Homo sapiens: one gene and its partners. The protein of the gene in region 3 purifies or fractionates together with the protein of the main gene of each other region. This does not show direct contact. Each region holds a gene or a part of one and is shown on either strand. Other genes may lie near its edges. The genes, in order: TENM3, FREM2, TAFA5, SDK2 and DCBLD2.

Evidence for each region.
Region 1: the proteins of TAFA5 (region 3) and TENM3 purify together in Homo sapiens (affinity purification with mass spectrometry; one large-scale study listed by BioGRID and IntAct). This does not show direct contact.
Region 2: the proteins of TAFA5 (region 3) and FREM2 purify together in Homo sapiens (affinity purification with mass spectrometry; one large-scale study listed by BioGRID and IntAct). This does not show direct contact.
Region 4: the proteins of TAFA5 (region 3) and SDK2 purify together in Homo sapiens (affinity purification with mass spectrometry; one large-scale study listed by BioGRID and IntAct). This does not show direct contact.
Region 5: the proteins of TAFA5 (region 3) and DCBLD2 purify together in Homo sapiens (affinity purification with mass spectrometry; one large-scale study listed by BioGRID and IntAct). This does not show direct contact.

Annotation. Positions count from the first base shown.
Region 1 is NC_000004.12:182,249,484-182,253,732, forward strand, and holds part of TENM3 (teneurin-3), read left to right. Parts: intron 1-4,249.
Region 2 is NC_000013.11:38,882,028-38,886,276, forward strand, and holds part of FREM2 (FRAS1-related extracellular matrix protein 2 precursor), read left to right. Parts: 3' UTR 1-4,249. UniProt on the Homo sapiens protein: Extracellular matrix protein required for maintenance of the integrity of the skin epithelium and for maintenance of renal epithelia. Required for epidermal adhesion. Involved in the development of eyelids and the anterior segment of the eyeballs.
Region 3 is NC_000022.11:48,649,853-48,654,101, reverse strand, and holds part of TAFA5 (chemokine-like protein TAFA-5 isoform 1 precursor), read right to left. Parts: intron 1-4,249. UniProt on the Homo sapiens protein: Acts as a chemokine-like protein by regulating cell proliferation and migration through activation of G protein-coupled receptors (GPCRs), such as S1PR2 and FPR2. Stimulates chemotactic migration of macrophages mediated by the MAPK3/ERK1 and AKT1 pathway.
Region 4 is NC_000017.11:73,641,156-73,645,956, forward strand, and holds the start of SDK2 (protein sidekick-2 precursor), read right to left. Parts: upstream 3,291-4,801; 5' UTR 2,934-3,290; coding exon 2,870-2,933; intron 1-2,869.
Region 5 is NC_000003.12:98,806,962-98,811,210, forward strand, and holds part of DCBLD2 (discoidin, CUB and LCCL domain-containing protein 2 precursor), read right to left. Parts: coding exon 4,233-4,249; intron 1,214-4,232; coding exon 1,120-1,213; intron 1-1,119.

The DNA of each region.
Region 1 (4,249 bases), on a different chromosome or scaffold from region 3:
TGCTCTCACAGCAGGAAAACACAATGGTGGACCATGCACTGGCTCTTAAAATCTTCTGCTCCATCGTAGACTGAACCGCTTCCTCTCACATCTTCTTGGCCAAAGCAAATCATACAACGAATGGGGTGGGAAATGTACGTCCCCCCACAGTGAGGGCACTAAGTGGTGGTGGTGGGGGTTGGGGACCTCTGAGGATGGGTCTGATAGAGAGGGGTTGCAAATATTTTGAGCAATTGTGATGTTTTTATATAAATATTCTTAGTTAGTGGTTTTTATTTTTTATTTATTTAGTTTTTTTAGAGACTAGGTTTTGCTGTGTCACCCAGGCTGGAGTGCAGTGGTTCAGTCATAGCTGATTGTAGCCTCACACGCCTGAGCTCAAGGGATCCTCCACCCAGCCTCCCGAGTAGCTGAGACTACAAGTATGCACCACTATGCCTGGCTACTTTTTTTTAAGAGATGGAGTCTCGCTATGTTGTCTAGGCTTAGTCAGCTGTTAAAAATGATTTGATTGCAAACAACTATGTGGTCTGCACTGTTCTGGTCATTTTTCTTTTTCTTTTCTTTTTTCTTTTTTTTTTTTTTTTGAGACGGAGTCTTGCTCTGTCGCCCAGACTGGAGTGCAGTGGTGCGATCTGGGCTCACTGCAAGCTCTGCCTCCTGGGTTCACGCCATTCTCCTGCCTCAGCCTCCCGAGTAGCTGGGACCACAGGCGCCCGCCACCACGCCCGGCTACTTTTTTGTATTTTTAGTAGAGACGGGGTTTCACTGTGTTAGCCAGGATGGTCTCGATCTCCTGACCTCATGATCCACCCGCCTTAGCCTCCCAAAGTGCTGGGATTACAGGTGTGAGCCACTGCGCCTGGCCTGTTCTAGTTATTTTTCAACTGTTACATCTTTTGTTTTAATGCACCACTTGGCCTTATTATCCTTATTTGGCAGATGAGGAAATGGAATAGAAAGAGAAACAGAAAAGTTAAGTAACTTACCTAAGGTAACACAACTCGTAAAGGATAGAGTGAGATTTTGAATGTAGGTTTTCCTTTGCCAAACCCCAGATTTCCCACTTCAGTGTACTACATGTTGGAGGGAAATCGCTAACGAATTTGGTTCATGTTTGGACAGATCAGTGACTTTTTTGTAAAGCCAAAGAATTCTTACGTGTGAATGATTTCCAGCTAGTAGAGAAAAACCTAAACTATCTATAACCTCCAGGAAATTAGTCATTCTGGCTAACCGCATTTTTCCAGGTTAATGAAGATTTAATATTTTAAAAATAAGCATTTTTATATTTCTGTTGACTAAAAACATTCACACTGTAGAAATTCTCACGTAGTGCATAGAATATTAAACATGCAATGGTGAATTGATAAGGTCTCCCGCACCAACTGTCACCTGATTCCAGCTGGAAGCTTATTTAATGGTGCGGCATTTCAGATGGATAAGAATTTGTTATGCAAACAAGGGTTTGTTCACATTTGATTTTCTTAACTATCTAAAGGCTCTAAACAGTGAGAGATTTGCCCAGAGACAAGAGCCTTTCCCACCAATCAGCAGAGCCTCTCAGTGTTCCAGAGTCCCAAAGACATCTTCATTTGAAGGGTTCGGGGCCTTAATTAAAGGACTGCATTTTGAGGTCTGGATTTCCAGGTTATCAATTTTGGGAACTGAAAAAAACCTTTCCACTTAGAAAGTCATCATGGGGGCTGGGCACAGTGGCTCATGCCTGTAATTCCAGCACTTTGGGAGGCAGAAGCAGGAGGATTGGGTGAGGCCACGAGTTCCAGACCAGCCTGGGCAACATAGCGAGACCCTGTCTCTACAAAAATAAAAAATTATCCAGGCATTGTGGCATGTGCCCGTAGTCCTGGCTACGTGGGGGACTGAAGTGGGAGGATCACTCGAGCCCAGGTGGTCCAGGTTGCGGTGAGCCATGATCACACCACTGAACTCCAGCCTGGGTGACACAGCGAGACCCTGTCTCAAAACAAAACAAAAGCGATGATGGGAAGTTGTCTTTTACTGTTAAAATGGAAAAGTGTGGGAGAAAATTAAATTACGGCTATGCTTTTTCATACTAGGTGGGCCTTCTTTCCCAGTATAGAGTCACCCTTTTACAACTCTGAACTTAAGATATAAAATGAGATGGTCGATTGTTTAGTAATCACTAGAATTCTATTCCCTCCTCGAGGTGTAAGTGCTGTCTTCTTAAATGGGAGAAATCTGTTTAAGTTTCATGATACATGCTGACACTGTGTATCTTACAAGTAAAGATGCTCTCTCCAACTTTGGGTTAAAACATGCACAGAACATAAAATTCTTGGTGACTGTAAATGAGATCTATCCATTACAGTGGGTTACTTTATTCATTTCAATATGTTACTTTGAATACCTGCATTTGAATTAAATGAGATTGCTGGCAGGTGCTGTGGCTCATGCCCGTTACCCCAGCACTTTGGGAGGCTGAGGTGGGCAGATCACCTGAGGTCAGGAGTTGGAGACCAGCCTGGCCAACATGGTGAAACCCCATCTCTACGAAAAATACAAAAACTTGCTGGGTGTGGTGGTACATGCCTGTAGTCCCAGCTACTCGGGAGGCTGAGCCAGGAGAATTGCTTGAACCCAAGAGGTGGAGGTTGCAGTGAGTCAAGATTACGCCACTGCACTCCAGCCTCGGCAACAGAGTGAGACTCCATCTCAAAAAAAAAAAACAACAAAAAAATGTGGTTGCTGAGAATGTCACACGTCCAGACCAGTCAATTGCTCTTAATTATTTAAGTATACACACGACTTTCTTTCATTATGCTCCTTATGAGTCAAACAAATATGGAGTGCAAAGCTTTTAAGACCTCTAAAATCTCTCCATCAGTTGTATGCTGCTGTGAGAGTAGAAATTGCTTTCATGGAGATTTGAAAGGGAAAAAAATTTAAATAACGATGTGATTTAGTGTGCAGTTGGCAAATCAGCATACTTAAAATACATGAATATTAAAATAAAGAATGCAATAAACATAACTACTGACTTACAATTTATTGAGCAACTGACTTTTAAATAAGATTTTTTCCACTCAGACTTTCTTCATAGACCTTCAGAGTCCCTCCTATTGTTATTTTTTTCCAGATCACTGTTACGTAGAGGCTTATCCTACTCACAGAATTTACCTGCATATTTAAATGGCATAATTATTATAAAAAGGCTCTGGGATACCTTTGGGCTCAGTACTTTAGCTGAGAAATTTTATACATAAAATGACACCTGGCTAATAAAAGGAAGCAAATCGGCATTTATTCAGTGTCCGTTAAGTGCCAGGAGCTTCACCGTGTGTCTCATTTAATCACATTGCAACAGTCACAACAGTCCTTTCAATTTGGAGCAGTAGTTGCTCTTAGTTCGGCAGACAAAGAAACCCAGCTTCATGTAGGTGAAGAATCGGCCCAAAGTCACAGAATTTGTAGAGCAAGGATCTGGACCCAGGCCTCTCTGTATCAAAGGCCTTGGCTATATTTTCCCATGAACTCTGCCGGCAGACACGAAACTACCTCTGAAAGGAGAAAGAAAATGATTTTTTTATTTGTTTGTTTTAAACAATAGAGGCTTTATCTCTCTTGTGTCACATTTTACTTTAGGGTTTAACACAAGTCTGTGAACATCCAGAAACACTGGCTTCATGTTGCTCCATCATCCCCAGTAAGAATTATACCAAGAGGCCGGGTGTGGTGGCTCACACCTGTAATTCTAGCACTTTGGGAGGCCGAGGTGGGTGGGTCACCTGAGGTCAGGAGTTTGAGACCAGCCTGGCCAACATGGTGAAACCATATCTCTACTAAAAATACAAAGAGTTATCCGGGTGTAGTGGCACGTGCCTGTAATCCCAGCTACTTGGGAGGCTGAAGCAGGAGAATCACTTGCACCCAGGAGGCAAAGGTTGTAGTGAGCTGAGATCGCACCACTGCACTCCAGCCTGGGCGACAAGAGCAAAACTCTGTCCCCCCAGAAAAATAACAGAAGATTTATACAAAGAAATTTATGGGATTATATGAAATTTTCCAGGCTTCAGGCTGAATAGACCACTTTTATATGGAAGGCATACTTCAGATATCTTAGATAAATGTTTTCTTTGATAAAAAAAATTTTGAGCTTCTCCTTGTAATATTTGTTTTTCTTAAATTGCCTCTCCTTCCTCCACACAATCATTAGCCTCTGAAAAATAAAGATATATTATCTTTTTAAATTGAAGCAAACTTTTAT
Region 2 (4,249 bases), on a different chromosome or scaffold from region 3:
GAACTGGTACAATGTGGTCCCTCTCAATATTTAAAAATATAATTTGTAACAGTGCTTACCATTCACCTCCCAAAGCCAAGGAACTTGAGTGAGCTTCCTTGGCAAGCCTCCCATTGCCTTTCTGCATCAATGTGTTTGTTACCAAATAGCAGAAATTTCGCTTAGAAGGGGAAAACTTCAGCTTTCCAAAAGCTAGTAAACATGTTTCAAAGAAAAATAAGGTCAGGAGAAAAAGAATAATGCCTACAGATTATCCTTCAGATGCTGGCTAGAATCCCCTTTGACTTCTAGCCATAAGCTGGCCACATTGGACATCTTGGTCACTGCAGAATTTTAAAAGGCAAACTTCTCAGAACAGATGTGCACATCTTAATTTGGTGTCTGTAAGTATCAACCATTTCTTGATCAAGATAAGGAAGCAACACTGATACTGAGAGAGAGGTCATATGTCCAATAGTTGCCTTTCTTCTCTTAGGCAGCTCTGCACTTCATGTTCAGTTTTTTAAAAATAGACTGTAGTATCCTTTCATTGGAGAATTTACAAAAATATCATCTACAGCTCAAAAGTCCCACTAACGGCTTATATGAACAGAAAGTACTGTGTAGCCCAGGAGTTTATTTAGCAAGATAAATAGTGGTAATTTCTTAATCATTCCCCTTTCCTTTGCTTTACCTTCTGGCAGATGCTTAGCTACTTCTTTGGCTACCTCATAATTTGTATGGGAATGAACATGAATTAGGGAACTTCAAATAGTGCGTAGACTTTTCCCTACTTACCATTGGGTTCAATTGATGTAGACTGTTAGAGCAAGTATACTCAATCAACTTGCTGATATTTTAGTAGTTAACAGCTTCCGAGCCTATCATGCAATTTGGAGTCTGTCAATGAATATAGCAATCGGTGAAGCATTACTGTACGAAGTCTGTTTTCAGGCTTTGGGTCAAGCTGGTTTTATACCAAATTTCACTCTACAATGCATATTCTAATGAAGCTACTTTATATAAATTGGAGAGCTTATAAAATGCAGAACATTTCTATCCTATCCTACCAAATATTTATCCTTCTCTGTCCTCTATTCTCTTACTCTCCTCTCTCCCTTTTTCCTTCCCTTTATTCCCTTGAAAAAAGAGAATCTGTGGGAAATAGGCAGATATAGCTTTTTAAAATATAAAGTACTTGGGATTTTGCATTATTTTTCTTAATATCTATTTACTAAGTATGTAATTTAATATACATTAATTATTTTTTGAAACTCTTGTTAGTGGGAAGAATATGGTAAATTTTTTGTTAAATAAAATAGACCCTTATGTTTAGCATTTTGTTTTTAGAGAACTATTCTGGTACTATCAGAACAAATACATAAAATAACTTCCCATAGAGAACAGGATATAGCAATAATAGCTCCTTAGATACTCAGTGGCTTCTGACTCCAATCAAGGTCTTGTTGATATTATATAGTAAAAATAAAACCAAAAATAAATATTATTCAAGTGGCTCTTCTAAGCATGTGAATCATGAAGCACTGAAATATGTATTTTAATGATGATCTTATTTATTCCCATTTTTGCCCTTAGTTAACATTTACTGGTGCTCACCTAGGATTGGCTATTCTGAGGGATTGCATAGAAACCAAGCTCCACTTGCTGTCCTTGGGAAGGTTATAACTGAATGCAGCTCTTTATTTGGACTAAAGTGTCAGGATATGCATTAGATTCTCTCCTGAACCAAAAACACAACAGTCATTATCTGTGAACCATAATTTAAAAATCTTTCTAGAATAACAACAGCAGACTCCACTCTTGTTTGTCTAAAAGAGCCCTACTGGGTATGGATCATTCTGATGACAGATTTATACAAAATGATTCAAACCAGTAACTTAGTAAAATTGACCTTCGCAAAACCTCACTGGGGGAGTGCCTTGTAGAGCTGTGGGTGGGACTGCACATTCTTTTCCTCTTAGTAAAAGATAGGCCCACTTTATTCCAAGAATAACACTTAGCACATAAACTCTTCTTCCAGCTCGTTAGCAGCATTAGCACCTTCTGAATTCCACCCTCTCAGAAGAATCCACAGTGTTTGAACAATTTGCATAAAGGTCAGCTAGCATCCTGCTGCCAAGCCACTGCATAGCATTTGTGATAAGAAGGACCAACTCTAGGCTCAATATGAAGGGATTTAGTTCTGTAAGCAGCAAAAAAGCTTCTTTATCAAGTCATCTTACCTCTAATTCTTTTCCAGTGTGCCAACTCCAAAGTCAACATTAAAAATGTAAATGGACCTGTGTAAATATCACAGAGAGCTTTTCCTTATACATCTCAATGCTGAGAGTTAAAATATTCCCAGGTTAAAATTTTTTTAAAGTACCAATAATAGAGCTAAATACAATGACATTTGCTTTTAAAAGGTGGATATTTTATTTCTGCTTTTTGAAAATACTTATTTAGTATTGACTTGGAAGCCAATTTGGTCCTTTAATAAGTAAAGAAAATAATATGTTTAAAAATGTAAATGTTTTACAAATTTGAAACTTTCATAATTGTATTAATCAGAAAACAAGCACATTGCCATTCTTTGAAACTCATGTTTCTAGACATGACAGCAGTAATAAAAGGATGAAAACAAGTGTCTTCACTAAGCGTATGGCCAATAAATGGGACCCAAACGTTCAATCTGTTCAGTTTACCAAGGTTCAGAAATACGTAATTTAGCAGGAAACTATAAATACCAGTGCTATCACAGCCACACATACACACACACAGACATAAAATAACCAAACATCTCATTTCTAGGAAAGAGATAACACTAAAGGCATCATAGGTTTAACTGAAATACGTTATATGAAGTTTTACAAAAAGGTCAACAGAAAGCTCATTTGTGAAAACATACTCTCATGGGAGCTTCTTTAACATTAGTTCAGAGGTTAATATATTTCCTGGAGGTGTTTTCCTAGAATTGATTGCACTATTGCATGGTAATAACATTTAATTGTTAAGGAAACATTATATATAGGTTCAAATTATCCCTTAATGTTGATTTCTCCCCTTTTCCATGGATTTTGATACTAAGAAACAAAATGCTTTGAGATTTTGGTAACTATTTTGATTTTGATAAAACATGTTAAAATAGAAGGACATGATATTTTTCTATAGTTTCCATCAGGAAGAGTACATCAGAAACTTCTCCATAAGGAAAGAAAACTGACTCTCTCTTGAACTAGTGTTGACAAAATACACTAATGTCTTTCTTAATTTTATTTTATTAGGAGAAAAATCAGAATATTAAATTTGCAAACTTTTGAACAGCAGTAATAGCTCCTTAGACACTCAGTATCTTTCTTCCCTATCTTTCAAGCACATTTAATTTCTTTCCCCTGGTATTTGTTTGCTTTGTGTTTTTTCAATATTTTGTTTGCTAAAGAACAATAACAACAACAAAGCTGGTCCAGCCCTGACACCTACTTTTGCTTTTTTTCTTTCTTTCTTTTAATTTGTTGAACTATAGGTTTCTTTCTGAGATGTATTTTTCATTCTTCCAATAATGCTCTCTTTTTCATTTCAAAACCATTACCACTTTCAATATGTAATTAACATCCTCATTCATCAGAAAGCTGGTAAGTCCACACAGCATTTGTGCAGTATCCCTTCTGTGTAAAATGTTAAGGCTTTCAGATGAAAGAAAAAAGAACTTCCTGCAAAAGATCAAAAGCATCATACTAAATAAAATGATGACAATATGTGCCTTGATTTTTCTCTCAATGGAGGTTCAACATTGACATTTAAGATGTAAAAAAAATTACTTTGATGGTTTAATTAAGAATAATAAGTCAAATATCACATGTATGTAGTTCTTTTGGATGACCGAATACCTTAAAATGAACTAAATAACTGAAATAAAGTGTTAAAATGTTAACAGCGTTGAAGTTTTTAAAATTATAATTATCAAATGCACAATGTTCTTTTACTATGCCAAATGTTGCCTACACTGATTACATGATTGTCACAGTTTAAGTGAATTTCTACTATGGATCTTTATTTTCCCCAATGTTTGGATCATCCTCTCAGATAAGAATTGTCAGTATTGCACCTCAAGAAAGAAGAAAAAATAAGAATGTAAATTTTTAAAAGCTAGCATTAAAAGTAAAGAGCAGTACAATAAAAATCACTTAAAATAGAGAAAGGCAACTACTGAGTAAGAAGAAAAGATAATTTCTGTAAAAGCTAAATTTATGCACATTACAAAAAGTAGTCA
Region 3 (4,249 bases):
GACGGGACAGGACCCTCCCTGCAGAGCCACCGTGCCGACGTGACGGGACATGGAGAGGCTAGAGCAAGGAGACCACCCCCTTCCCTCCAGAGCCGCCGTGCCTACGTGACGGGACACGGAGAGGCTCGGGCACCCATGTTTGCTCAGCCACCTCCCAGTGTGCTCCCAACCTGAGACTCCCCACAGCACCTCAAAAATCAGCAACTTATCTACCAACCCCAGCTGCCATCTGGTGACGCTCACGTAGTGCCCGTGAATGCTGGGGTCTCCTCTCCTTCACCCTGAGCTGTGCTCCCTGGAGCTGGGAGTGGGGGCGCTTCACAGAGGGGGACATTCAAGGAACTTCATGTTCTCAGCAGCAGAACACCCTGGCTCCAACCGTCTCATCTCTCTACAGAGGCGTCAGAGAGCCATGCAGCTACTGTGTGGTTTTCCAACAATTAAACGCACCGAGATCTGGAAGGAACTGCTGGGTAACTTGCTGGAGAAGGACTGGCTTGCTCCCTTCTGGTAAAACTGGGCTCTGATGAAGCAAAGTGCTTGGCCTTTAGCACAGTTGCCATTGTACCCTCACGCCACAGCCATGGGTCGGGCCGGGCAGTCAGCTCCTCCCTGAAACAACTTCACCACAGTGGCCCTGGCCAGGGCACTGTGAGTTGTGGCTCCAACAGCAGACACACCTGCCCTGCCCTGCCCACCTGCTGGGCCTGAAGTGGCTGCATCCTCTGGACTGAAGCAATTCACATCCACGTCCTAGGGAACCGGGGGCAGGGTCTCTTCCCACCATCTTCCTCACAAACCAATCATGCTCAGAACTGAGGGACATGGTGCCCGCATCCCAGGGCATCTCCAACCCCATCTGGATCCAGGCAGAATGGAACGGAGGGGTGTGCTGGGGAAGAAAGTGTCGCCAACAGCCCCCAGGCGCCTCTCCGCTTGCCAAGCGTTTATAACACGCCACCCTCTCCCAGCAGTGGTTCCATAACAAAAAGGCCGCGGGTGGCAGCAGTCTGCGCGGAGATGTATGTGTCCTGACAGCCCCACCACGGTCGCGTGATGCAGTGGCTGGCAATGCCTGCCAAGCAGAGGGCCACACCAGCACCCACAGCTTCTGTGCCACAAAGCACGGACCCCAAGCCATGAGGGGTCCAGGGTGGCCAGGACCCACAACCTGGCTGAGGATGTGGCTGTACACCCAGTCGCCCATGGCCTCGGGAAGCCTCCAGAAATGCTGGGATCTCCCTGAGCCCCCAGAAGGAAGCCGACATGTCCATGCCCCTAAGCAGTGGAGAGGGTGCCTCCTGAGGCAGGCAGGTACCCAGCTGGTCTCCGTCGCGTACTGGAAGGTACCTGGAACATGAGTCCTTTTCTCAGGAAGGTTGTTAGGGGAGCGGGTGCCCAGTAAACAGCCCAGAGCAAAGCCGGTGCTCCACGTGGGGGTCTGGGCCCCTCTGAAAAACAGCTTCATTATCCTTCCTCAGATCAGGGCCTCGATGATTTGGTGAGGGCCCAGACCCCCTCCTGGATGGCGCTGGGTGGCCAGTGCGGGGTGCCAGGCTGCCAAGGGTGGTCAGGGCTCAACGCAGGAAGGGCTGCCCATGAACAGCCAACTGCCAGCAGGCGGTCTCCTGTGAGCTCTGTGGTCAAACAGATGTCCCCATGTTGTATGAACAACTGTAGGGAAGCAGGGCCTTCCTTATCCCAACCACCACTTGCCGAAGGGATGAACGGGGCAGGCAGGGCCAGCCACAGCCTCTCCAGCTGCCACCCTGGGGCCAACCCCTGGCCAGGCTGAGCACCAACTGGTAGATGCAGGCTGACTCGGCCACAGACACCGCATCTTAGGGACCTTGGCGCACTCCCAGTCTCTTGCGTACAATAGAGCAGGTGATTCACGTCGCTCCTGGTGGAAAATTCCCGTCACCCTAGTCCCAGCCACAACATGCCTTCAGCTGGCCCTGGGGGCCCCGTTGGCGCCTCGAGGTGGAGATGACGCGCTGTGCCCAGCCTCTCAGAACCGAAAGGCTTTTGCTCCTGCACTCCTGTAATTAAACCCCACATTGCTAGGGCATCATGAGCAGCTAGGCATGATGACGGTCAACAACGGGGAAAGGCAAGAGAAGAAGTGACTTCCCTCCTACCCTGGCTCCTGCAGTCACTGCCAGGACCCACAGCCCAGGGTCCAATGGCCCTGCCATCAGTGTGGTCCCCATCCCCACAGCAAGGACAGGACCATCTCCAGACTCCTGTACGTGGCCAGGGCACCCTCCACCCTCCCGCACCGACCTGCTGCTGGAGGATGAGGACAGGGCTGTGGACGTGGGGTGGAAGGTGACGCTGACCACAGATCCCCCTCGTGGTGCCCCTTCTTCTTCACACCTGGACTCTAAACCACACGTGAAGCACAGATGCCAAACCCACGGCCTCAGCGTCCACCCGCCTAAGGCTGCGCGTCTACTGCCAACCATCCACACTGCCTGAGAGCGGGCAAGGCCTCTGCTGTCCCACGCCTGCCTCAAACTCCCAACCACAGAGAAGCAAAGACTCTGGCCACCATACCTCTGCCCAGAACCCGGCAGTGCCCACCTGCCTGTTTTCTGCCTCTTTTCCCAGCCCAGGACCCAGGTGGCTCGCAAGGCCTCATGCCTGGAGAATATAAGGCTCCACCCAACACCCACCTCCAGGCCCTCTGGCCCTGCCCCTTCCTGGGCACAGCCTCCCCAGACCTGGCAGTCAGCCCGGCCTGTCCTGCACCTCCCAGTGGCCACTGCGGCCCTGACAATGGGTCTGCGCTGTGCCATGACTGCAGTTTACCATCCTCCAAAAGCTCCCAGGGAAAACTGCCCCCGCCCACGACCGAGACTTGAGGCTACCACCCTTCACCCCTCTGGCTCAGCTCTGGGGCAGTTCCGCTCACAAACCACCACCCTCTGCTGCCCCCGCTACTGGGCTGCAGTCTTTGATTTCCTGGGAAAGGAGTTTCAGGAGAACTCAACTTGTGGGAGACAGCACCTCTCTTCATAAAGGAAGACCTTGCTTCAGCGAGGCGGGCTGGCCAGGTACAGCCAGGTACTGCATGCCTGGCAAGGGCTGGGTGAGCGCTGGACTCGGACACAGGGTCTCAGTCCTCAGTGCCGTGCTGTGGTGGCTGCGGGACCCAGCACGTGTGTGCTGATGGAAAAGGGAACCTGGCGCGTCTGCATAAACAGCTAGAAAGGAGCAGAAGCAGGGCCTGGCCAGCCCGCCAGGGCATCACGCACCTGGGTGCCTGCCTCAGAGGGCAGCCCTGGGGGAGGGGAGGCTCGGTGGCTGATACTGTGTGTAAGGATGGAAAGCGCCACAGTGCGTGGCTGGTTTGTGTTTGAATCTTTCACTGATGGTTCCGTAAGTTGGATCTCGCATGCAGGTGCACAGGCTCACAGCCCTGCCCTGTACAGGCAGGGACATGGTTCACCCAGAAATGCTTTAGCTCAGAGACAAGGCCGGGGAGGCTGGAGGCTAGAATTCCTCTCTAACCACTGGCCCCCTCTTTTCACAAAGAGAAGCATTTCTGGTGAGCTCCTCATCATCCCTCAATACCCTATTCAAATGCCCCCTCATGGATGCATCCTTGCTGAGGTCCCAGCGGGAAAAAGTGATGGCACTCTGGGGCCCCAGTCTGAATTCCCGCACCTGCAGCACTGCATGGCTCTCTGTATTGGGTGTTTTGAGTTGACTTCCCCATGCACCTCTTCTGCTGCCATGGGTATCCATCTTCTTTCAACAGATGAGTGAGTGAGCAAATGTATGAATAATTAAGAAACCGACCAATGGACAAGTGAGCACAGTCAGGCTTGCTCCGGCATTCCGAGCGCCTGTGGTCACGGAACGCGGTAGGGGCAGCAAGTGCCTCCCCGATTTCAACCCTACTCACATTCAATTCCAACACCGACCCAACACAGCACAAGTTTTCTCTTCAGCAAATGCAATTCACATGCGAGGAAACTTATTATGCACGCAGAGCAAGAAAATAGAAAAGCAAAAATTAAATTAGATGGCAGCCTGGAAAATGCCCACTGTGCAAAAAGAAGCAAAGCTAACTAAGCTAACTAATTTGTTTGGCCTCCCTTGAAAACAGTACGGTTTTAATTTGGGTCTCTGGGACCCGGCTCCTGAGGCACCAGGAGGCTCCTGGTGAGAGGAAAGTGAATGTGGTTTCAGATGAGCAGACCCAGATTCAATTAGTAATCAATTTTGACCCCAACTCTGC
Region 4 (4,801 bases), on a different chromosome or scaffold from region 3:
TGGTGGGTGGCAGGGTACCATTCTTCATGGACTTCTAGCTTAATGTTAAAACCGTCATAACAAGAATAATAATTGCCATGTATTAAGTACCTTCTATGTGCCAGGCACTGGCTGGGGCCCTGCCCCTGGAATATCTTGAATTCTCCTAGCAATTCTACAAGGCAAGAGCTATTATTGCCAGTGTACAGATGAGGAAACTGAGGCTCTTAGTGGCTAAGAGCCTTGCAGAAGGCCTCTCTTCAGCGAAGCGGCAAAGCCAGATCATGAGAGCCCGTTCTTTCTGCTGCCAAAGCCAATGCTCTTTCTACAACCTCACTGCACTTTGCTTGGGAAATGAGTTTGCATCATGTGACCCATCGGGCATACGGCCAATGGTCAAATGTTAGCTTTCAGTATACCCAGGTGATGTCGCTCAGGTCCAGCACCCACCCCCCATCCCCAAAAAAAACCAACCAGGCTAGGCTCAGATAAAATCTGGTGACAGTGGTCGATGTGAAGTTTGTCTCAAGGGAGGAACAATTGTTTCGTCCCTCGTTCTGTGCCATGCCTGGAGAAGCAGGCTTGTGGGCTCAGAAATGACAGTGCTAGTGGCTTCAGCTACCCCCCAAAGGATTAATGTCATGGCCTGAGACTGGAAAAAACTCACTCTCTAACCCCAAAGCAGATAAGAAAGGACCTCATGCCCTAATCCCACCCCCTCCAACACTCAAACCCAGCACTGCCAAGCCTAGGACCACGTTCCCACAATCCTTTGCAAGGCTTGCCTCCAGGGACACACACAGCAGGAGAGGGCTCGATGCTGGAAAACACTCTCGGAGCCAGAGAACACGAGCGGAGCAGCAGGGGACCTGGGCAGCCTGACACGCAAAAAGCCAGCAAACAAGAAAGGCAGAGAGGAAGTGAATCAATCACAGAGACTTTCTCTGCTTCTGACAGGGAAGCCCCTCCCGCAGGAGGCGCAGGGACAGGGGGCCACCTGGCCTTAACTTCAGCAGGAGGGGTGGGATCTTGGCCTCAAGTGGATGGCACAGGTGTGGACGTGGGGCAGGAAGGGACACATGAAGACCCCAAAGCAAGGGCCATCAGGTGCCCTGGGGACTCTATAAGGGCCTGGTCCTAGATGAGACAAGAATTGGTGAGCCACCTGCCCAGGGAAATCATACCATTGTTGAAAAGTCTGTAGAGCAATGAAGTTAGAAGGGTCCAGACAGATGCTGGCATCCCGTCCCTCCACGCCGTCCAGGCTTTTGGCTAGTAACACTGGTTGTCCCAGAGCACAACTGTGAGGCTGCTCCAGGATGAAGGACAACCCATTCCTATTCTGCCAGCATCAGGGTCCTCCTGGGACCCCTCAGAGAGGGGGCCCAGACCAAGGAGACCCCATGCAGCTAGTCCTGGTTTGAGGGAGAGAGGCTCAGAACTCATCTGGTTCCAGACCTGCCTCTGCCCCCAGATCACAGAGTGGCCTTGGGCAAGTCATTTAATGCCATTTGGCCTCAGTTTCCCTATCTGTTAAATGGCTACTAGAATAAGATGACCTCTGAGGTCCTCGCTTGTTCAAAGATTTTATGATGATCATAAAAATAATAACTTTTATTACCCTACATTTATAGGGCTCGTTACAAAATTTCGAAGTGCTTTTATGTAAATTACCTCGTAAAATCCTCCCCTCAGCCCTGTGAGTGAGAGCTGATTATTTTCATCTCTTTGATCTTGGCTCTCTGGATTGCCTGGCGCACGAGGCGGCGTGGGGAGTGGGTTGCAGCCCCCACAGTCCGGACCCCTAGGGTGGGTCTGGCCCCCTCCTGAGCCTGCGAGAGTGAAGGCCTAGCCCTGCGAGTCCTGGAGCTCGGTCCAGGCTTCGTCTCCCTCCGCCCCCAGCAGGCGCCGCTCGGACACCGCTGACACCACTGTCTGGATCGGCGAACCCCAAAGTCGAGGAACCGCCGGTGCAGCCGCCCTTCACCTCGGGGACCTGCCCGGGGACCAGGGGGACGTCTGGGCATCCACCCTCAGGAAGCGGGCAGCGCAGATCACACCTCGGATCCTTCGTAGCACTCCCAAACCCAAAGCCACCAGCCCTTCTCCACCGCGAGGCTGCTCCCGGCAGCCACAGGTCACAGCAGCGAGCGGCTGCACAGACTATCGAGCGAACAGCGGAGGCTGGAGGCAGGGGCGGGGATGCTGGGTGTGGGTGGATGGGTAGGAGGGGAGGCCTCAGACCCTCCCTGTGCACCACCCCCCGGTGGGTCCGCGGCTGCACCCGCGACCTTGGCTCCAGGCCCGCGCAGCGAAGCACCCCCAGCCCCAGCGGCTGGCCGAGCAGCCAGGGGCGGGCTCCCGTACGTGGCCAAGCCGGGCAATTGCTCTCCCCGGGCGAGCAACCCGGCATCCAGCGCTCGCCCACCCCACTCCCTCGCCCCGGGGAGGCCATCGCCTGCCCGGCAGGGGCCCTGCCCTTCCCCGCAGACACCGAGCAGGGAACCAGGAGCTCGGTCTGGGAAGCTCAGCGTAGCCGAGCGTGGAGCCCGGCACGGAATGTCGCTCCCCTCCCAAGCCGGCGCAGGGCAGCCACAGCAGACGGGGGGAGGGGAGCGCCCCTCCCACTTCACCTTGGGCTCTTCTCTGCCTCCCCAGGTCGTCCCCACCTTCCCCCATTCGGAAGCCACAAGTCTCGGAGAGACTGCCCCACCCCCAAAAGAGCCCCAAAACTTGGGAGATGGGGTGTCTTGAAACTCCCTGGAGAGGGCTCTGCCACGGCTAAGCCGGGTGTCCAGGAGGTCACCGTGAGGCCGGCCAGCTCCCGCCGCCCCTCCCCCGCCCACTCTCCCAGCCCCCTCCCTGTCCCCACGTGGGGGTCCCTCCTTACCTTGGGCTCTGGCCGCGCGGATCTGATGCAGAGCTAGCAGTGTCCAGATCAAAAGCCCCCACATGGTGACCAGCCTGGAGAGGGGTCCTCGGGGTCTCCCTTCCCTCCGCCCTGTTTTATAATCCTGGTGGGGTCCGATACCCCGTGGCTTAGTCCCAGGAAACAGTCAGTCTACGCGGCTCCGTGCCCCGGGGTGTAATATGCCCGGGAGGGGCAGCGCTTGGCTACCCCAACCCTTCCTCCTCTTCTGTACTAGTCCGAGCCCGGCAGCGCGCCCGGAAGGCGAGGGGCGAGCAGGGAGAAAGAGGCCAGGCCGCCCTCTCGGACTAGGGCGCCTCTCTCCCTTAGCACCCCAACTCCGACTTCTCCCAAACAGGGCGGCCTCTGCGATCCGGCCGGGTCGCCGGCCGAGCTCCGGAATAAATGGACAACTTCAGGAAACTTCCTCCCGTGGCCACGTTGCCCGCCCCCTCCCCGCCCCCTGGTTGGGTTCTCCCGGCCGACGCAGTCACCGCCGTTCCAGGCGCCGGGCCCCCGGGACCCGGCCAGAGCCGAGCGCAGTGGCAGACGCGGGTGCGGGGGTTCTTTTAGGGGCGCCGGTTTCGGGGGACGCGGTGAGCATAGCGGTCCGAATCTCCCTGGAGCTGAAGTTTTCTTCTCTCTAACTTTGCAGGCAGCATCTGGCGGGGCCGAACCACCCCCTCTGGGCTCCACCGCCCTCGCGCCGAATCGGGAGACGCCGGGTCTCCTCCGGGGGCGCTGGGGCCGGGCGCGCCCTCGGCTCCGCGCCCAGCCGGCTAGCAAACTTTGCGGGTCCCGGAGCCGGGCGCGCAGCCCTGAGCGCCCATGTCCGCGCCAGCCGCGGGGCGGCGGGGGAGGGTGCTGGGCTTCGCGACGCGGGCTGTCGCCGGCGCCCGGGCGCAGAGCCTCCTGCCGGCCCGAGGATGGAGACCGGCGGCTCTGCCCTCCGCCGCGCCCCGGCCGGAGCTCTCGGGAAGACGCACGGAGAGCCCGGCGGGCAGCCCCGGCTCCGGGGACGCGGCGCCCCTTCGGACGCCCGGCGATCGCCGACCTCCCGGGCCGGAGGAGCAACGGCCGCCCCAGCGCCTCGGCCGCCGCTGCCGCTCGCCGAGCCCGCCGCCCTCCGCTTCCCGGGCTCGGCGTCCAGAGAGCCGCTCCTGCCTGCGCCGAGCCGGAGCTGCGGGGGCAGCGTGAGCCGGGGACGAGCGCGGCGGAGGCGGAGACGCGGAGAGGGGGGCCGAGCGCTACCCCGTGGCCGCGACTGGAGAGCAGCCTGCGCGCCGGGAGGGGCGGCGGCGGCGGCGGCGGCCCCGAGCCAGGCCCGGGAGCGAGCCCCGCAGAAATACAATCCGACTGCGCGGCCGCGGGCGCCCAGCGGCTCTGGGACCCGCAGGGGGGCAGCAGTGCCAACCTTCTGCCGCGCCGGGAGAGATGCGCGCGAGCCCCTCCGCTCTCTGCCCAGCCTTTCCTTCCAGCCTCGCTCGCGCCCCTGTCTCAAAGGCCTCATAGGACTCCCAGAGTCTCCTATAGTCGGGAGCCCCCAGCCCCCTTCCGGACATGGAGTGATTGGTGGGGAGGCGGCGGTTGGGAAAAGGGGGTCGGTCAACCGATTGATTCCAGTTTCCCCTTCCCAAGTCAGGCTCTCCAAGGTCTGGAAATGCTCAGGGCGGAGGGGGAGACATCGGGAGGCCTGGGACCTGCAGAAGCCTGAGAAAGTGAAGTTGGTGCCAAGGAGCGTGCGTTCTTTGTTTCTTCTTTTTTCCTTCGGAGCCCAGCTTGTAAAGAGTAGAAGAACCGGACATTGGTGGAGGAATTCAAACAAGAGAGCCCGGAGGCGTCCTCTGCTGTGGCCCAGAGCTAGCGCCTACTCCACGAAGCTCAGCTGGGGTTAACAGGCTTCTGTTAAAATTT
Region 5 (4,249 bases), on a different chromosome or scaffold from region 3:
CTTGCTAAGTCTCTCAGCCTCTCTCCTCTTCAATCTACCCTTCAAAACTGCCACCATCTTTGTACAATCATCTGACAATATCACCTCTTTGCTTGACACTCAAGTGACTTTCCATCTATAGAATGAAATCTAAATTTCTCTCTTCCAGAAAAGCCTTTCCTGATCCAGGCCCAGACTGAACCTCTATGGTTATTTCTCAGGACTCTCCCACGCCAAGCGTACATGCGATGACTCACTATTTTGCCTACATTCCATATCTCTGTGCCTTCACTCAAACAATTGGCTCAGGTTGGGCCATTTGCTAGTGCTATGGTCTGAATATTTGCATCTCTCCAAAATTCATATGTTGAAATCCTAACCCCCGTTAGAAAGTGGGGCTTTGGTAAGTGATTAGGTCATGAAGGCAGAGTCCTCATGAATGGGATTGGTGCCCTTACAGGAAAGGCCTGAGAGAGCGTGTTTATCCCTTCCACCATGAGAGGATCGGGCAAGAAGGCACTGTTGATGAATGAGCCAGACGGCAGGCCCTCACTAGTCATAGTATCTGCAGTGTTTTGATCTTGGACTTCTCAGCCTCCAGAACTGTGAGAAATCAATTCTATTATTTATGTCACCCAGGTTATGGTATTTTCTTACAGCATCCCAAACAAAGACATCTACCTTCCTCTATCTAGCCAACTACAATTCCTTTAAGGCAAAGCAAGCCAAACTTGAGGAGTCCCCTTTCCCGAAGAAAAAACTTCAGTTAATTCTCATGGTTCATAACTCATCAAACCACATGATATAGTTCCTTGTTAGTCAACCCTGCTAAACACTTCAGAGAAAGGAATTGTGTCTCATTCTTTAAGTAAATGTAACTATCATGTGTCAGAAATTGTTCATATTAATGTACATATCCCAGTGTATAATGCAGAACTTGATACAAAAAAGGTACTTAGTAACTGATTGTGGAATTGAACTTATTTATTTTTAATGGGAATAAAGGAGAAGCATGAAATTTTCATTTTAATAATTACCTTAACTCTCACTCTCAAACAGGTAAACATTTTCATCTTCTATATTTAGCTTCTACTTCACATTTGGTAGTTTTGGACTCAGGTGAACTAGTTATGTACTAACCTGTTTCTCCAGTGCCAAGCACACACTAATATGAGAATGAGAGTAGTGAGGACCATGACCAGCACAGGGACAAGAACTGCAGCCAGCGCTACATCTGAAGTTACAAAGACAAAAACAGACAAACAAAAGCCATATTAACACCAAAGGCAGAAATCACTAGGGAAAATTAACCACATCATCTTTCAACATTTTTCTACCTCACGGAAATACCATAAACATTATTTGTCAAGACTGGGCATGTGGTGGTAACTGTAGAAGCTTTTGCAGATACACAAAAGCTTGTTACACTATTCATTCCATCTGTGTAGAGATGTGAAATTTTCCTAAATTTTTAAATCACTAAAATAAAATTGAAAGACAAATGAAAAATTGGGAAAATATATTTTCTACATATGAGAAGAGTTACTTTAAATAATTATTATATTGTAGGGCATTACAAGCCAAATCCAAACATTTAAGAGAAAAATCAGCAGAGATTAACTAGTAATACATTAAAAAATACAAGTAACCATTAAATATGTTAACTTCACTAGTAATCAAAGAAATACAAGTTAAACAACCAACACAAAAAAAGTTAAAACAACAAAATACTACTTTTGCTAATCAAAGTGGCAAATATTTAAAACAACAACTAATTGATGAACAGGCTACCAGGAAACAGTTATTTTTTAATGGAAATATAAACTGATGCTATCTCACTGATTGGCATTTTTGGGCAATATGTACAAAAATCTATTGGCAATTCCATTCCTAGAATTTATTCTCAGAAACTAAAAAAAGATGCATCCTTAAAGATGTTCTCCCTGTTTCTGCGTAAGAGTGAAAAATTGGAAATAATCCAAATGCCCAAAAATGAGAGGGAATAAATCATGGTATCCTCCTTACAAGAGAAAATAATCCAGCAATTGAAATGACGTTACATCATAATGGCAAAACATTCATATATATATATATGGGAAGGTAACAATGTGGTGTTAAGAAAGTCAATTGGAAATGTGTGTGTGACCAGGTCAGAAGCCAGCATAATGCTGGAACTGGGAGAGATTTAGGGATCATTTAATCCCCTAATTTCACTCCAGAGATAAGGAATTCTGGGCCCAGATATAGAAAATGATCTGCCTAAGGTCACTTGGGATATTAGTTTCTTCCTTTGTCGCTCAACCCCCTACTTGCCATGAAGATGATAATAGCAGCACCTGCTGATATTTACTGGGGGCTCAGAGCCGGACACTGCAATGAGTCTAACCTGCACCATCTTCTTTATTCCTTAAAACAACTGTATCCAAAAGAGAGAAAGAGGCTGAAGATACAGGAGGGGGAGAGGATAATCAGTAAGATTGGGTCCCTGAGAGGTAGATCGAGGGGAACCAGGGCACAGGTGATATAATCAGCCTTGGGCAACATAAGGAAGCCCCCTTTTCACTGCAGTGAACAGAGGATACAGATAGGTTTGTAGGCTCCACAAAAAGGGAGTTTCACTGGAAGGAAACTCCCTACTTTCTCTGTGAAGTTGGAGCGGTAACTGAGAGTGGGTGAAGATATCTGGGTGAAGGGCTTGAAAATAAGGGGAATATGTAAAATAGCTACAGTTGAGAACAGACAGAAGAGCTACTGCAGCCTTTCAGAAGGTCAGCCAGCTGGTGCCACGGGCCCCACTGAGGGAGGACCTGGAAACTACAGAGGCACAAATCTGACCATGACATAATCTTTTCCATGAAATCACTCTCAGCCTGGCTGTAAAAATGGAGAAGTCCATAAACAGAAATAATGACTTAGACTAGAAAGCACTCAGAATTCACAACGGTAAATGTGCTTTTTCCATAAGATTAGTGAGACAAGAGAAGATAATCAAGTTTAGATGGATGCTGTGTGATTTAATCAGAGGCTTTAAAACATCTTCTTAGGTTCAAAAAATAAATTTATATACTACCATCCCCCTAAAAAAGAGACAGGAGGTCTCTGAGAAGACCAACTCATTCTTTGTTATTCTTTTTGGGCATACAGGGATCCTAATTCTGGAAGGAAATTATTTAAGGACTCTTTTTAGCCTTGAGGGTCTGAGATGCAATCAGATTTTAAGATGAGCAACACTTTTCAGTGACTGATCTCCATCCAGGCATGTGGTCTGGGATTCTGCCTTAGTACATGCCTTCTGACAACTGGTAAGCAGTTAAAAGATGCTGAGATCTCCTGCCTCTGAGAACCCTTGATTCTCTCTAGCTGTACCTGCAGCATGAGAAAGTAATTCATCTTTGTGAAAATACTTCAGAAGATGGGAAAGAACCAACATGGGGAAAGTCAGAGAAAGTTATCTGAATCCAGGCAAACTTTCAAAAAATGAGAATGACTGAAGTTCTATGTGGCACAAATTACTTTGGATGAACGGCTTTCTCTCTCTGCACTTTCCTGAAAACAAGGAAGCTTTTTATGTGACAACTCTGATACTTAGTCTACTATGACACTGACACTTTTTTGAATTCAATTGAAATTTTGTTTTTCAACAACTAGTAAGACTACTATGTTTTATGTATTTTGAGACCTTATTTATCACTGATAACAAAACTTGAAAGTAAATTCTAATAAATTTCTATTTATGATCTTAAAAAATATAATTGCAAACACTTAAAAAGAGACCAAAGTTTTTTTTTATGAATATGTTAACTATGAGTATTTTTTAACAATTACTAGTTTCTACTAAAAGTTCTGTTTTTATTTTCCCCTTTTTGCCATCAAGTTCCCTATCCATCAAATTAATATATTATCAAGGGAAACAAGTTTGTTTCCTGCTATGATTTCAGTTATTTCTAGAAAATATTGTATTTCTAAGCCTGAGAGTCAACATGTTTAGCTGTAAGGAACAATAAATCACAAGAGGAGGCCTGCAACACAGTGGCCTTCTCTAAATATTTAAAGAGCAATTCTACATGGCAGCAGAGACTACAACTTAGATCAATGCAGTCTTTTCCTATGAAAGAAAATAAATTTTTTTTTTTGCTATACTTAAAAACTATAGTTGGAAGAAAATAAACTGAAGGTTTAAAAATGCCCGTGAAAACTTCAGTTAAGAACAAAACAATACTATGTACTAGGCGTTCATTTCCATGTTTGCATACCTTTGGTTACATTTGGA